2 linked regions of the Homo sapiens genome follow. The protein of the gene in region 2 interacts with the protein of the main gene of each other region in a pairwise test. Each region holds a gene or a part of one and is shown on either strand. Other genes may lie near its edges.

Evidence for each region. The genes of interacting proteins can lie anywhere in the genome.
Region 1: the proteins of INTS12 (region 2) and GTF2IRD1 interact in binary tests that used the Homo sapiens proteins (3 or more experiments, as listed by UniProt).

What each region holds. Positions count from the first base shown.
Region 1 is NC_000007.14:74,554,900-74,561,925, forward strand, and holds part of GTF2IRD1 (general transcription factor II-I repeat domain-containing protein 1), read left to right. Parts: intron 1-274; coding exon 275-324; intron 325-493; coding exon of another isoform or gene 494-538; coding exon 539-595; intron 596-2,739; coding exon 2,740-2,823; intron 2,824-3,961; coding exon 3,962-4,145; intron 4,146-4,727; coding exon 4,728-4,756; intron 4,757-7,026. UniProt on the Homo sapiens protein: May be a transcription regulator involved in cell-cycle progression and skeletal muscle differentiation. May repress GTF2I transcriptional functions, by preventing its nuclear residency, or by inhibiting its transcriptional activation.
Region 2 is NC_000004.12:105,691,677-105,698,702, forward strand, and holds part of INTS12 (integrator complex subunit 12), read right to left. Parts: intron 3,993-7,026; coding exon 3,840-3,992; intron 1,811-3,839; coding exon 1,623-1,810; intron 460-1,622; coding exon 300-459; intron 1-299. UniProt on the Homo sapiens protein: Component of the integrator complex, a multiprotein complex that terminates RNA polymerase II (Pol II) transcription in the promoter-proximal region of genes.

The DNA.
Region 1 (7,026 bases), on a different chromosome or scaffold from region 2:
GGCAGTGACAATCGTGCAATGTCCCTGGAGCAGGAGTGAGATATCAGATGGACCTGTTCAGGACTGGGGGGGGTCTCACTCCCAGCTGGATCCTTCAAGCCCAGCGCAGCCCCCCAGATTCCACATGTGGGGCGGCAGGGACTCCAGGCCTGAACTATGCATAGCCAGAAGGGTCCATTGCAGGGCTGTGTAGACTGAGGCCCAGAGAGGAGGGCTGAGCAGTCCCAGAGATGCTTGGAGGGACCTCTGTGATAGCCTCGCTTGTGTTTTCCAGGCCCGAGCTGCTCACTGAGGGAGTCAAAGAGCCCATCATGGATAGTCAAGGTACCCAGCGCGGGGTCGGGAGCCATGGTGTGGGCGGGCAAGGGAGGGCCCCAGGCCTCTGCCACCAGCCCCTCCTCCTGCTGCCTCTGTCCTGCTCCCATCCTGGCCCTGGCATTCTCCCCACACCCCCACATTGGGTTTCCCCTAACGATGCCATCTTGGGTCCCAGGAACTGCCTCCTCACTTGGCTTCTCTCCCCCTGCCCTGCCCCCAGAGAGGGATTCCGGGGACCCTCTGGTGGACGAGAGCCTGAAGAGACAGGGCTTTCAAGGTAAGGTTGAGCTCACGGGGAGGTCTGTTGTCCCAGCACCAGGACATTGACCTGGTTTGGGTTTGGAGGGCCAGGCTGGAAGTGGGGAGGAGCTGGCCCCCAACTTCAGGGCCTAAGGGACCAGGCAAGCCAGGTTGGCAGCCCAGGCCCGGCTGTACCCTGCCAGCTCTGTGTTAGAGACTCCAGGGGAGAGGGGGTGCCTACAGGTGGACGGTCGGGGGAGCCCAGGAGCCTGCCTGCCCCCTCCCTGCCCCACCCCCCAGAGGTAGCTGACACGCCCACTCCTTTTTCAGCAATCAGCTGTGGTCTTAGTGCTTTGAAATCAGAATAGGAGCCAGACGCGGCACCTCACGCCTGTAATCTCAGCACTTGGGAAGGTCAAGGTGGGAGGATCGCTTGAGGCTGGGAGCTCGAGACAAGCCTGGACAACATAGAACCCGTCTCTATGTCTATTTTTAAGAAAAGAAATCAGAGGCCGAGTGCAGTGGCTCACGCCTGTAATCCCAGCACTTTGGGCGGCCGAGGCAGGTGGATCACTTGAGGCCAGGAGTTCAAGACCAGCCTGGCCAACATGGTGAAACCCCGTGTCTACCAAAAAAATACAAGAATTAGTTGGGCGAGGTGGCGTGCACCTGTGATCCCAGCTACTAGGGAGGCTAAGGCGGGAGAATCGCTTGAACCTGGGAGGCGGAGATTGCAGTGAGCCGAGATCATGCCACTGCACTCCAGCCTGGGTGACAGAGCAAGACCCTGTCTCAAAAAAAAAAGAAAGAGAGAGAGAGAGAGAGATGGTGGTCTGGGATCCCTCCAGCACATGCTGGCACTTGTCTTTGTTTGTTTGTTTGGATGGAGTTTTACTCTTGTTGCCCAGGCTGGAGTGCAATGGCGTGATCTCAGCCCACTGCAACCTCCGCTTCCCGGGTTCAAGCAATTCTCCTGCCTCAGGCTCCCAAGTAGCTGGGATTATAGGCACGTGCCACCACACCCGGCTAATTTTTGTATTTTTTAGTAGAGACGGGGTTTCACCATGTTGGACAGGCTGGTCTCGAGCTCCTGACCTCAGATGATCTGCCCACCTCAGCCTCCCAAAGTGTTGGGATTACAGGCATGAACCACTGCACCCAGCTTTTTTTTTTTTTTTTTTTTTGAGACAGAGTCTTGCTCTGTCACCCAGGCTGGAGTGCAGTGGTGCGATCTTGGCTCACTACAACCTCCACCTCCCAGGTTCAAGGGGTTCTCTTGCCTCAGCCTCCCAAGTAGCTGGGATTACAGGTACGCACCACCATGCCTGGCTAATTTTTGTATTTTTAGTAGAGATAGGGTTTCACCACATTGGCCAGGCTGGTTTCCAACTCCTGCCCTCAGGTGATCCTCCTGCCTCAGCTTCCCAAAATGCTGGGGTTACAGGCATGAGCCGCCGCGCCCGGTCACACTTGGGCGTTTTTAATGAACACTTTCTGGGTGAGGGTGTCTTGGTGGCTCATGCCTGTAATCCCAGCACTTTTGGAGGCTGAGGCAGGCAGATCACTTGAGCTTGGGGGTTCGAGGCCAGCCTGGGCAACATGGCGAAACCCCATCTCTACCAAAAACACAAAAAAGAAATTAGCCAGGTGCGGTGGTGCACGCCTGTGGTCCCAGCTACTCAGAAGGCTGAAGCAGGAGAATCGCCTGAGCCTGGGAGGTGGAGGTTCCATTGGGAGCCGCCAGGCCCATCCCCTGTGTCTGTGGGGACTGCCCATCCTCCTCCATCTGCTAGATCAGCTGGGCTTCCATTCCCTCGCTTGTCTCCAGCCCCCTAGTGACTTCATGAAGCCCCCGCCCCCTGCCTGCCAGCCCAGGGCACAGGACTCCGTACTCTATGGTGTCCCTCCCCTCCGGGGCTTATTTATTGGTTTGGTGGTTTTCAAATGTCATCAATTAACTTAATTTCCAACTCATCACTGTTGTGGCAACAGTGCATGTCCTTCTGAAAAAAAGACATCTCCATCAACATGTCGGTGCTGAAGGACCTGAGGGGCCCACTCCAAAGATCCTTTAATTGCCGGAGAAGGAGTTCCCCATAATTAGAAAATCATCTTCCTTAAAAGTCACCAAGTGCTTTTTCACTCAACAGCCCAAACCCATAATCGTTTTGCGCTTTGCAGAAAATTATGACGCGAGGCTCTCACGGATCGACATCGCCAACACACTAAGGGAGCAGGTCCAGGACCTTTTCAATAAGAAATACGGTAAGCAGTGCAGAACCCCCGGGGAGGGACACGCAGCTGCTGTGCACAGAGAAGTGGGAGGCTTCCCAGTTCCAGCCGAGGGCATTTCTGGGGAAACAATTCACCCCTTTACATGTATTTCTTGAGCATATACTACGTGCCAGGCACTGTCTCAGGCACTGGGGATATTGCTGTGAATAAAACAGACACAGTCCCTGTACTCATGAGCCTTGCAGACCAATGAGGTGAGATACACTTTCAAGAACTACACACAGAATTTAATAGACAAGGGCCCGGCACAGTGGCTCCTGCCTGTAATCCCAGCACTTTTGGAGGCTGAGGCAGGTGGATCACTTGAGCTCAGGAGTTCGAGGCCAGCCTGGGCAACATGGCAAAACCCCATCTCTACCAAAAACACAAAAAAGAAATTAGCCAGGTGCAGTGGTGCACACCTGTGGTCCCAGCTACTCAGGAAGCTGAAGCAGGAGAATCGCTTGAGCCTGCGAGGGGGAGGTTGCAGTGAGCTGAGATCGCGCCATTGCATTCCAGCCTAGGCAACAAAAGCGAAACTCCGTCTCAAAAAAAAAAAAAAAAAAATGGAGCATATGACATGGGAGCATATTGGTGTGGCTTTTTCTTTCGTTTCTTTTTTTTTTTTTTTTTTTTTTTTTTTTTTGAGACAGGGTCTCACTCTGTCACCCATGCTGGAGTACAGTGGCGTGATCATGGTTCACTACAGCCTCAAACTCCTGGGCTCAAGCAATCCTCCTGCCTCAGCCTCCCAAGTGGCTGGAACTACACCCCACTGGGCACTACCATGCCCAACTAGTTTTTAGAAATTTTTAGTAAAGACAGGGTCTTGCTGTGTTGCCCAGGCTGATCTCGAACTCTTAGACTTAAGAGATCCTCCTGCCTTGGTTCCCCAAAATGCTGGGATTACGGGCATAAGCCACCATGCTGGCCTTTTTTTTATGTTCTGATCAAACAGCTCAGATTGTAATGCCTATACCTTTCCACAGTGCTACACTACATAAGAGCTTTCTCGTACCATTCACTCTCCTGCACGCATGTCTTTCCATCACATCCCCGCAATCCCATGTACACACACCCCACGCTGCCTCTCACTCCTGACGGGCAGGACCCTGCCTCTCGCCCACAGGGGAAGCCTTGGGCATCAAGTACCCGGTCCAGGTCCCCTACAAGCGGATCAAGAGTAACCCCGGCTCCGTGATCATCGAGGGGCTGCCCCCAGGAATCCCGTTCCGAAAGCCCTGTACCTTCGGCTCCCAGAACCTGGAGAGGATTCTTGCTGTGGCTGACAAGATCAAGTTCACAGTCACCAGGTACTCAGTGGGAAGGGTGAGGGTGAAGAGGCAGGACTAGCTCAGATGGGAGCTTGCACCTGCGAATCCTTAGCCTTTCCCTAGGTCCTGCCCTCCCCCCTGGACAAGGTGGCTCTCCTGGCACCATCCTGGGTCCTGGGGGTGGTTGGAGAGGGACTGCAGGCCAGCCCAAGTGAAGGGAGCCCTTCAGAAGTGGGACTGGTCACCCCCCCATGGCAAGGGCAGCCTTTGAGGGCATCTTCAACCTGTTCAGCAACACCCGCTCACTGCACCCCCAGCCCCCGGGAAAGGTATTCAGCCCCCATCAGAGGGATTTGCCCAAGGTCCCGGGGCCAGCCAGGGCAAAGCCTGCACAAGGCCCAGGTCTGCGTCCTGCAGAGTGACACTGCCAATGCCAGCACCCTGCCACATTGTCTCAGTGTCCCGCACACACAGAGCCCCAGGGCAGCTTGTTAAAATGCAGATTCTGCTGCTGTAGGTCTGGGGTGCTCCCAGGGGAGACCGAGGCCACTGAATCCCAGGGGTGTCTTCCTCATCCCCCAGGCCCTCCCCATGACACCCCTGCCTCTGTTTCTCTTCTAGGCCTTTCCAAGGACTCATCCCAAAGCCTGGTAAGAGGCACTGGCTGTGGAGGGGGCACTGGGAATAGGGCCCGATCGTGGTGCTGGGGACTGGAGCTAAGCCTGCTGTGGGGCACAGGTTCTGGGGTCTGGGAACAGAAGCCAGGCCCCTGCCTTTCTTTTTTTTTTTTCTGAGGCAGAGTCCTTCTCTGTCACCCAGGCTGGAGTGCAGTGGCTTCATCTCGGTTCACTGCAACCTCCACCTCCTGGATTCAAGCAATTCTCCTGCCTCAGACTCCTGAGTAGCTGGGATTACAGGCAATTGTCACCATACCTGGCTATTTTTTGTATTTTTGGTAGAGACGGGGTTTCACCATGTTGGCCAGGGCTGGTCTCAAACTCCTGACCTCAAGTGATCCACCCACCTCGGCCTCCCAAAGCGTTGGGATTACAGGCGTGAGCCACTGCGCCCGGCCTAGGCCTCTGCCCTTCTGTTTAGCCACCTTACCTGGGCTCCTGCCCCAGGTAGATGGAGGAAGACTAAGCTTGAATGTGGCCCCAGATCCTGGGACAGAGAAAGGGGTGGTGGCGTCAGTGACTTCTAAGTTTTACCCAGTCTGGGTTCAGGAGGGAGGGGCCAGGCCGAGTCAGTGCACCTGCTCCTCCTGATAAAGGGGCTCTGGTTGACCTCAGTGAATAGGCGAGGTTGGAGGTGAGTGGGTTCCTAACCGCAGAAGGAGGGGTGTCTGCATGGGGACCACAAGCATGTTGGTAAGATGTGGGTGGCGCCTACCCTGCCTTAAACAGTGCAGTGCCTCTCCTGACCCTTTTTAAAAAAATATTTTATATATATAATAAAATATATACATAATAAAAAATATATATAATAAAAATATTATATATAATTAAAAATATTTATATAATTAAAATATTATATATAATTAAAAATATTATATATATAATAAAAAATATTATATAGAGAGAGAGAGAGACAGAGACAGACCAAGTCTCACTTTGTTGCCCAGGCTGGAATGCAATGGCACTATCTCTGCTCACTGCAAACTCCACCTCCCAGGTTCAAGCTATTCTGCCTCAGCCTACCAAGTAGCTGGGATTATAGGTGGGCACCACCATGCCCGGCTAATTTTTGTGTTTTTAGTAGAGCTGGGTTTCACCATATTGGCTAGGCTGGTCTCAAACTCCTGGCCTCAAGTGATCCTCCTGCCTCAGCCTCCCAAAGTGCTGGGATTACAGGCATGAGCCACCACACCCGACCTCCTGACCCTTTTTAAGGCACCCATCCACTTCTGTCTCCACCATGGACTGTGTCCTGGCCTCCCAAACCCAGATTTGCAGGGGCTGTCCCTGCAGGGTGATCCCAAACCCAGATTTGCAGGGGCTGTCCCTGCGGGGCGACATGCCACTTGGCAAGCACTAAGGGCTGGCCAGAGCCTCCAGGGCGGGCCAGGCACGGTGGCTCACACCTGTAATCCCAGCACTTTGGGAAGCCAAGGCAGGAGGATCACTTGAGGTCAGGAGTTCGAGATCAGCCTGACCAACATGGTGAAACCCCATGTCTATTTAAAATCCCAAAATTAGCCAGGTGTGGTGGCGCACACCTGTAATCCCAGCTACTTGGGAGGCTGAGGCAGGAGAATCACTTGAACCCGGGAGGCAGAGGTTGCAGTGAGCCGAGATCGCGCGACTGCACTCCACCTTGGGCGACGGGACTAGATTGTCTCAAAAAAAAAAAAAAAAAAAGAACTTAGGGTACAGTGATGTGGCGGCTGCTGACAGGCCACGGGAACCCCCAGAAGGGGGATCAGGAGGGTGAGGGGTAGTTGGAGAGGGTTTCCTGGAGTAAGGATGGCCCTGCTTGGGCCTCAGGGGAAGATGGGACTTTGAGAGGCAGAGAGGAGGGTGGGTTTGGCGGGGTGAACGGCAGGGGTTGGGGGGTCACTGGATGCCAGAAGTGTGTTTCCGGAGCTCTCGGAGGGGCAGAGTGGTCAGATGATGTTGGAAAGGTGGAGAGAGTGGAAGCTGCAGCAGCACAGTGCAGTGAGTGTGGCTCCAGTGGACACCCGGCTGAGAGGTCACTGGGTTTCTGGCCCTGCACTGGTGCTTTATGCGGGTGCCTTTCACACATATTTTGGGAGGTCCTGCTGGGACAAGGTGGTATTCTAGAGGAACTAGGGTTACAGCAGAGTGCAGACAGAGGAGGCATCTCATTTAGTCTTCATAGCTAGGAGGTTGACGCTAGAGCCCACCTTACAGAGGGGGAGACTGAGGCTCGGTGTGAGTGATGTGTTAATACTCTGTGT
Region 2 (7,026 bases):
TAAAATGTTTGTCAATACATTGACAGACTAGTAAGGAATATTCATAATTTGTGTGTCACCAATCTTGTTTTATCTATATTAGAATTAGATAAAACTAAAAAGAGAAAAATGCACATAACATGGTCTGGTCTTTAGCAATAGAAATATTAATCACATGTACATACTATACATATAAATAAATAATCAGCTTATATTATTTATTTTTTCAATATCTTAAATATTCAAATCTTTGTTTTGAAAGCACATACCAACAAAAACATTGACAGACTGTTTAAAATAAAGAAAAATATGATTCCTACCATTCTTTTCATTTGTCTGGTACATCGGGCACAATACCACACCAGGCGAGGGTCATTCGCTTCCTTGTCTGTCACCTGGGGTTTATGACAATCTCGGTGGTAGAGATTATGGCACTCCTGACATTCTACTAATTGATTGCCAGATGCCACCATCATTTGCCTAAGAAAACATACCATTAAACATTACACTACTTTTTTAAATGCCATAATTTAAAGTTATTTCAGGGGCCAGGTGTGCTGGCTCATGCCTGTAATCCCAGCACTTTGGGAGGCCAAGGCAGGCGGATCATTTGAAGTCAGGAGTTCAAGACCAGCCTGGCTGACACGGTGAAACCCTGTCTCTACTAAAAATACAAAAATCAGCTGGGCATGGTGGTACACACCTATAATCCCCACTACTCAGGAGGCTGAGGCAGGAGAATCGCTTGAACCCAGGAGATGGACGCTGCAGTGAGCCAAGATCATGCCACTGCACTCCAGCCTTGGTGACAGAGTAAGACTCTGTCTCAAAAAAAAAAAAAAAAAAAAAAAGTTATTTCCAGGTTGTTCTGGTAAAGTTTGGTATATTAAAAAGAAAAAAAATCCCAGAAACCCAAAGAGCAAATAACAAACCCCAACACTTGGCATGCACAAAAGCATAAGCTTTTAAAGCTTATGGTCAACCATTAATAAATATATAGAATGCCTTAATTAAATTTGGCTATTTTCTCGTCATTTCTCGTCATAATTTTTGCCTTTCTCTCAGAAGGTAGTAGACTCTGATTAGTCTTCCAACAGCCTCATAACATTTTGTATCTCCATTAAATTCCCTTATATTAGTTAGCTGTATGTTGTTGTTGTTCTTCATTAATATGAGTCACCTAAAGGTGAGTACTGGACCTAATTATCCACAGTCCTTAGCACATTACTGTGCACACATAGGGTGCTCAATAAATGTCTGATCAGATTAATAGAATGAAGCCATGTGTGTATAAAAAAGTATAAATTTCAACAGCACAAAAAGCAATCACCATAGCCTTAGATTATCAAAGGCATATATATCATAATATAATAATCACTTTCCCTCTGGAACCCAAAAATGCAGAAAATGTTACAACATAACAGATTTAAAAGCCATAGTTGGGAAAGACAAAATAGTTGACAATTTTCAATATGCTAAATTGTTATATGGGCAGTTACCTACTTATCTCCACCCCAGTTCCAAATAGTAAAAACAAAATAGAAAATGCACAACAATTTTTCTGATTTTGGGGGTTGAGGAGTGGAAAGGGTCATGTGTTCTTTATAAAGTAACAAAAGAATCTGTGGCAAGGTACAACTTACCTACAAACAACGCAGGCCAATCCCATCTCCATGGCAAAATCATCAGCACTGGTCTCCTCAAAACTGGAAAGGTCAGCCATAGGTAAATCCTTGCTACTTTGGACAGTAATGGGAGATGACTGTGTTTCTGGTTTCTCCAATCTAGGTTTCTTTGGAATATCAACTCCTTCAGTGATGTCTGATTTCATCTATAAAAAGCAGGCATCAGAAAATGATAAAGTAATGTGGTAGAATAAACTTTAAGTCACTGAAAGACGAGTGAGAAGGACAATTGGCAATGAACAAGTCCATTTTACAGATATATTCACATAGTTAGGGACAGATGTGCACATTAAAGATCTGTAGAAGAATTGCAATGAATTTATTAGTATATTAAATGAAACCAGCAAGATAGAAATAAATAAATCAGAACAGTTTAACAAATATTTGTATTTCTCTTTGTACTCTTCTATCTACTAAAGAATTATGGAAGATCGATGGATTTACTTAGACTAGTATCTACCATACAGACTTAACACATATTTGCTTCAAAGCAAATTCGGATTCCCTTCTTTAAGATATAAATATTATCAATATACCCATTAGATTTGGCAAAAATCAAAAAGTCTGATAAGACATGGAATTTGGAATTCTTATACTTTGTTGATGACAGTGTAAATTTAGTACATCTACTTTTGATAGAAATTTGGCAATGCCTAGTAATGTTGAAGATGTCATATCCTATTATATTCACTTATAGGTATACATCCTATAGAAACTATTAACATGACATATGTATAAAGTAGCTCACTCAAACTCCATTGTAATAGAAACAAAGGAGAAATATCTAATTGTGCATCAGTAGGGGAATGATAAACTGGTTAATCATTCCCCTATGATAAATCAGTAGGGGAATGATAAACTGGTATTATGTAGTAGCTAAAAGAAATCTAGATCTACATGCATTAACAAAGATACATTTCAAAAGCACATAGTTGAGTGGAGAAAAAGTTACCAAAGGATATACACACACACAGTATGATAACATTTACATAATTTTTTTTTTAAGACAGAGTCTTGCAGTGTTGCCCAGGCTGGAGTGCAGTGGCACAATCTCTGCTCACTGTAACCTCCGCCTGCTGGGTTAGAGTGATTCTCACGTCTCAGCCTCCTGAGGTGCTGGAACTACAGGTGTGCGCCACCACACCTGGCTAATTTTTGTATTTTTAGTAGAGAGGGGGTTTTGCCATGTTGGCCAGGGTGGCCAACTCCCGACCTGCTGACCTCAAGTGATCCTCCTGCCTTGACCTCCCAAAGTGCTGGGATTACAGGCATGAGCCACCACACCCAGCTTCACTTATGTAGATCTAAAAACAGAGAAATAATCTAATGTAGTTTATGAATAGCCACTATTTAGCAAAAGTATGAAAACATACGGGATAATATACTCCATCTTGAGGGCAAGGGTTACTGAAGATATCTTTCAAATGTATTTTTTTCTAACTACTAAAATCTTAATTACTATATGTAGAAATCATCTAAAAATAGACAATCCAAGAATCATCTTTGGCACTGTTCAGGTGCATACCACTCTATAAAGTTTATGTTTAGTCATTTACATCTATACTCTTTCCCATCTTTTCTTTCTTGCTTTCCTTTTTTTTTGAGACAGCGCCTCACTCTGTCACCCAGGCTGGAGTGCAGTGGCACGATCACCGCTCACTGCAATCTCTGCCTCCTGGGCTCAAGCAATCCTCCCACCCCCCACCCGCCCACAAACAGCTGGGACTACAGGTGCATGCCACCACACCCAGATGATTTTTGTATTTTTTGTAGAGATGGGGTTTCATCATGTTGCCCAGGCTGATCTTGAACTCCTGAGCTCAAGCAGTCTACCTGCCTCGGCCTCCCAAAGTGTATCTATCTTTTCTTCTTAACAACTGTTCCATCTAGGATCTCTGAGGCATAGATTAAAGTTTACACTCAAAGTTACTATACTCCCTAGGACTCAAATATTTATTGACAATAACTTTTAACCACTTAACTTTAAAATTTGTAAATTTTACTCATTTTTTGAAAAGTCAAAATCTATAGCTATCAATATATATTCACTGAGTGTTGATTATTATATACCTATACCCATTATTATATAAAAGAAATAGGCATAAAACATTGTTTCTTTCTGCTTATGGAACAACTAATTTACTTTCTTTTAACAAGATTAAAATAAAATCTTACTTTATCAGCAGGTCTCTTTTCAGCTTCCTTCTTTACCTTTTCAGTTGTGAGGACCTTGCCATTATTATTACCAGAAGGAAGACTGGATGATATTTTGGGCTCTTGCTTAATGGAAATGTTTTTTGTGCTTGAAATTTTGGGTGGCTCCACATCCTAAAAGATGAAAAAAGGTACCAGTAATTAAATATTTAGACTGATCATCATAAAAAAAGATCATTAATATAAACAATTTTCAGTTAAAAATTAAGACATTTCATTATAACCAATGTAATATTCCTTTCTTAAATAGTTAAATAGCTTTATTGAGAAATAATTGATATACAAACTGTACCTTTTTTATTTTTATTTTTTGGGACAGAGTCTCACTCTGTTGCCCAGGCTGGAGTGGAGTGCTGTGGCACAGTCTTGGCTCACTGCAACCTCTGCCTCCTGGGTTCAAGTGATTCTCCTGCCTCAGCCTCCCGTGTATCTGGGACTACAGGTGCACCACCACACCCGGCTGATTTTTGTAGTTTCAGTACAGATGGCGTTTCACCATGTTGGCCACACTGGTCTCAAACTCCGGCCTCAAATGATCCGCCCACCTCGGCCTCCCAAAGTGCTGGGATTAAAGACGTGTACCACCACACCTGGCCCAAACTACACCTACTTAAAGTGTAACATTTGATAAGTTTTGACATATGTATACGTCTGTGACACCATCACTACAATCAACATAATGAACATATCCATCATCTCTCCAAATTTCCTTGTGGCCCTTTGTAATTACTCTCTTACAGGTATACACCCTATAGAAAAATATGTCTCCCATCATCAAGCAAGAAAAATATGTCTCCCATCATCAGGCATATAGAAAAATATGTCTCCCATCATCATCATCACTTATCTGTTTTCTGTAACAATACATTAGTTTGCATTTCCTAGAAATTTATATAAATGGAATCATATTCTTTTTTGGTCTGGCTTCTTCTACTCAGCATATTTATTTTGAGATTCATCCATGTTGTTTAGTGTATCAATAGTTAATTCCTTTTTATTGCTGAATAATATTCCATTGAATGAATAGACTACAATTTATTTATCAATTTACCTATTGATGGATATTTGGGTTGTCTGCAGTTTGGGACTATTACAAATAAAGCTGTTATGAATATTCATGTACAAGTATTTATATATATATCTATGTTTTTATTTCTCTAGAAAAAATAGGAGTGGGTTATATGGTAAGTATTAATATATGCTTAATTACTTGAGAAACTGCCAAACTGTGGCAGTACCATTTTATATTTCCACCAAGCATATATGAGAGAGTTCCAGTTCCTTCCCATCCTCACCAATGCTTTGTATGGCTACTCTTTTTAAATTGTAGATGTTCTAATAGGTATGTAGTGATATCTCATTTAGATTTAATTTAAATTTCCCCAGTAACTAATGATGTTGAGCAGCTTTTCAAGTGTTCATATGGCATACATATATCTTCTTTGGTAAACTATTTGATAAAATATTTTGCCCATTTAAAAGAAATGAATCTGTTTGTTTTATTACTAAGTTAAAAGAGTTCTTCATAGATTTTGGGCACAAGGCCTTTATCAGATATATGATTTGCAAATATTTTCTCTCAGTCTGTGGCTTGTCTTTTCATTCTGTTTAAATTCAATTCCTTATTCATGTATTATAGCTTTGCTGATATAGATAACTTGTTATTTGTTGTCATTAATAGTATGCATAAACTTTGGCAGCTCTTGGAATTCCCCCTCCCCCAAAAGGAGGGCACTTTCCCATCATTCTAAACAAAACTAAGGCAGCTGAGTGCAGTCTATTTTACTGTGATAATATGTAAAAGTACAAAAGTATAAATGGGAATAATACACAACAATTTCAGAATAGTGGTTACCTCTGAGGGGGGAAGAGAAGAAAAAGGAAGGAGGAATGGGTCCTCAGATCTAGTGGTGGCAGGGCTTGATATATTATTATGCTGATTGTTTAGACAACGGGTTAGCAAACTGAGGCCTATAAATAGTTTTTTATAAACAGTTATATTAGAACACAGCCACACCCATTCATTTTATAATGTATGGCTGCGTTCACATTACCATGGCAGAATTAAATAGTTGCAATGGAGACCATCTGGCACACAAAATCTAGAATTCTTACTATTTGGCTCTTTATAAAGTCTGTTGATCACTGGTGTAGACTTAGTAAAGTGTTGAAGAAAATGTTAATAATGCAGATTAAACTTAAAAATGTGTGGTGGGCAGGTGTGGTGACACATGCCTGTAATCCCAGCACTTTGGGAAGCCAAGGTGGGCAGATCACTTGAGTCCAGGAGTTTGAGACCAACCTGGGCAACATGGCAAAATGCTGTCTCCACAAAATATAAAAAAATTAGCCAAGCATGGTGGCATGCACCTGTAGTCTTAGCTACTCAAGAGGCTGAAGTGGGAGGATTGCTTGAACCTGGGAGGGAGAGAGCGCAGTGAGCCAAGATTGTGCCACTGCACTCCAGCCTGGGTAACACAGTGAGACCCTGTCTCAACAAAAAACAACAGAAAAACAAAAACGTGTATTGTGTGTAACTAAAAAATTGAAGACAAAGTCATGCAGTATTAAACTATTACCTAATTCAGCAAAAAAGTTGTTCTAGTTGTTGACGGATGAGTTAAGTTTTAACTCCATTATTTCACATTTGCCTTCCTCATTAATGTAAATGAATATCAACCAATATTCATGTTAGAATACACTTGGAGACCTGGTAATGTTAGTAAGCATTACCTCCAGGTGATTCTTATCCATGCTAAAGTTTGAGAAACACTGGCATAAATCACTCTTCTTACACAAATCTAGTGATGAAAATATTCAGCTGAAGGCTAAAATTAAATGGACCTGGGCTTTAAAAACCTATAACAAAGTAGTTTCTGAAAACTGATCAAGAGAAATGAACTCTAGCTAGAAACCTAAGGGCAGCGTGCTTTTTAATCACAACAAATTTTTCATGTTCTTTAAGAGATAAACTTCCATTTTAGAACCCCATTAAAACAATTTTTTTTCTTTAGTAATAATAGGTTTCCCTATCTGGACAATACCAACACCCACAGTGGAATGAATTTGGTAGTATGTTTTGTAGAGCCATATTGATTTGGTCGATCTGAACTCACTGAACCTACTGCAATGAGAATGGATAGAAGAA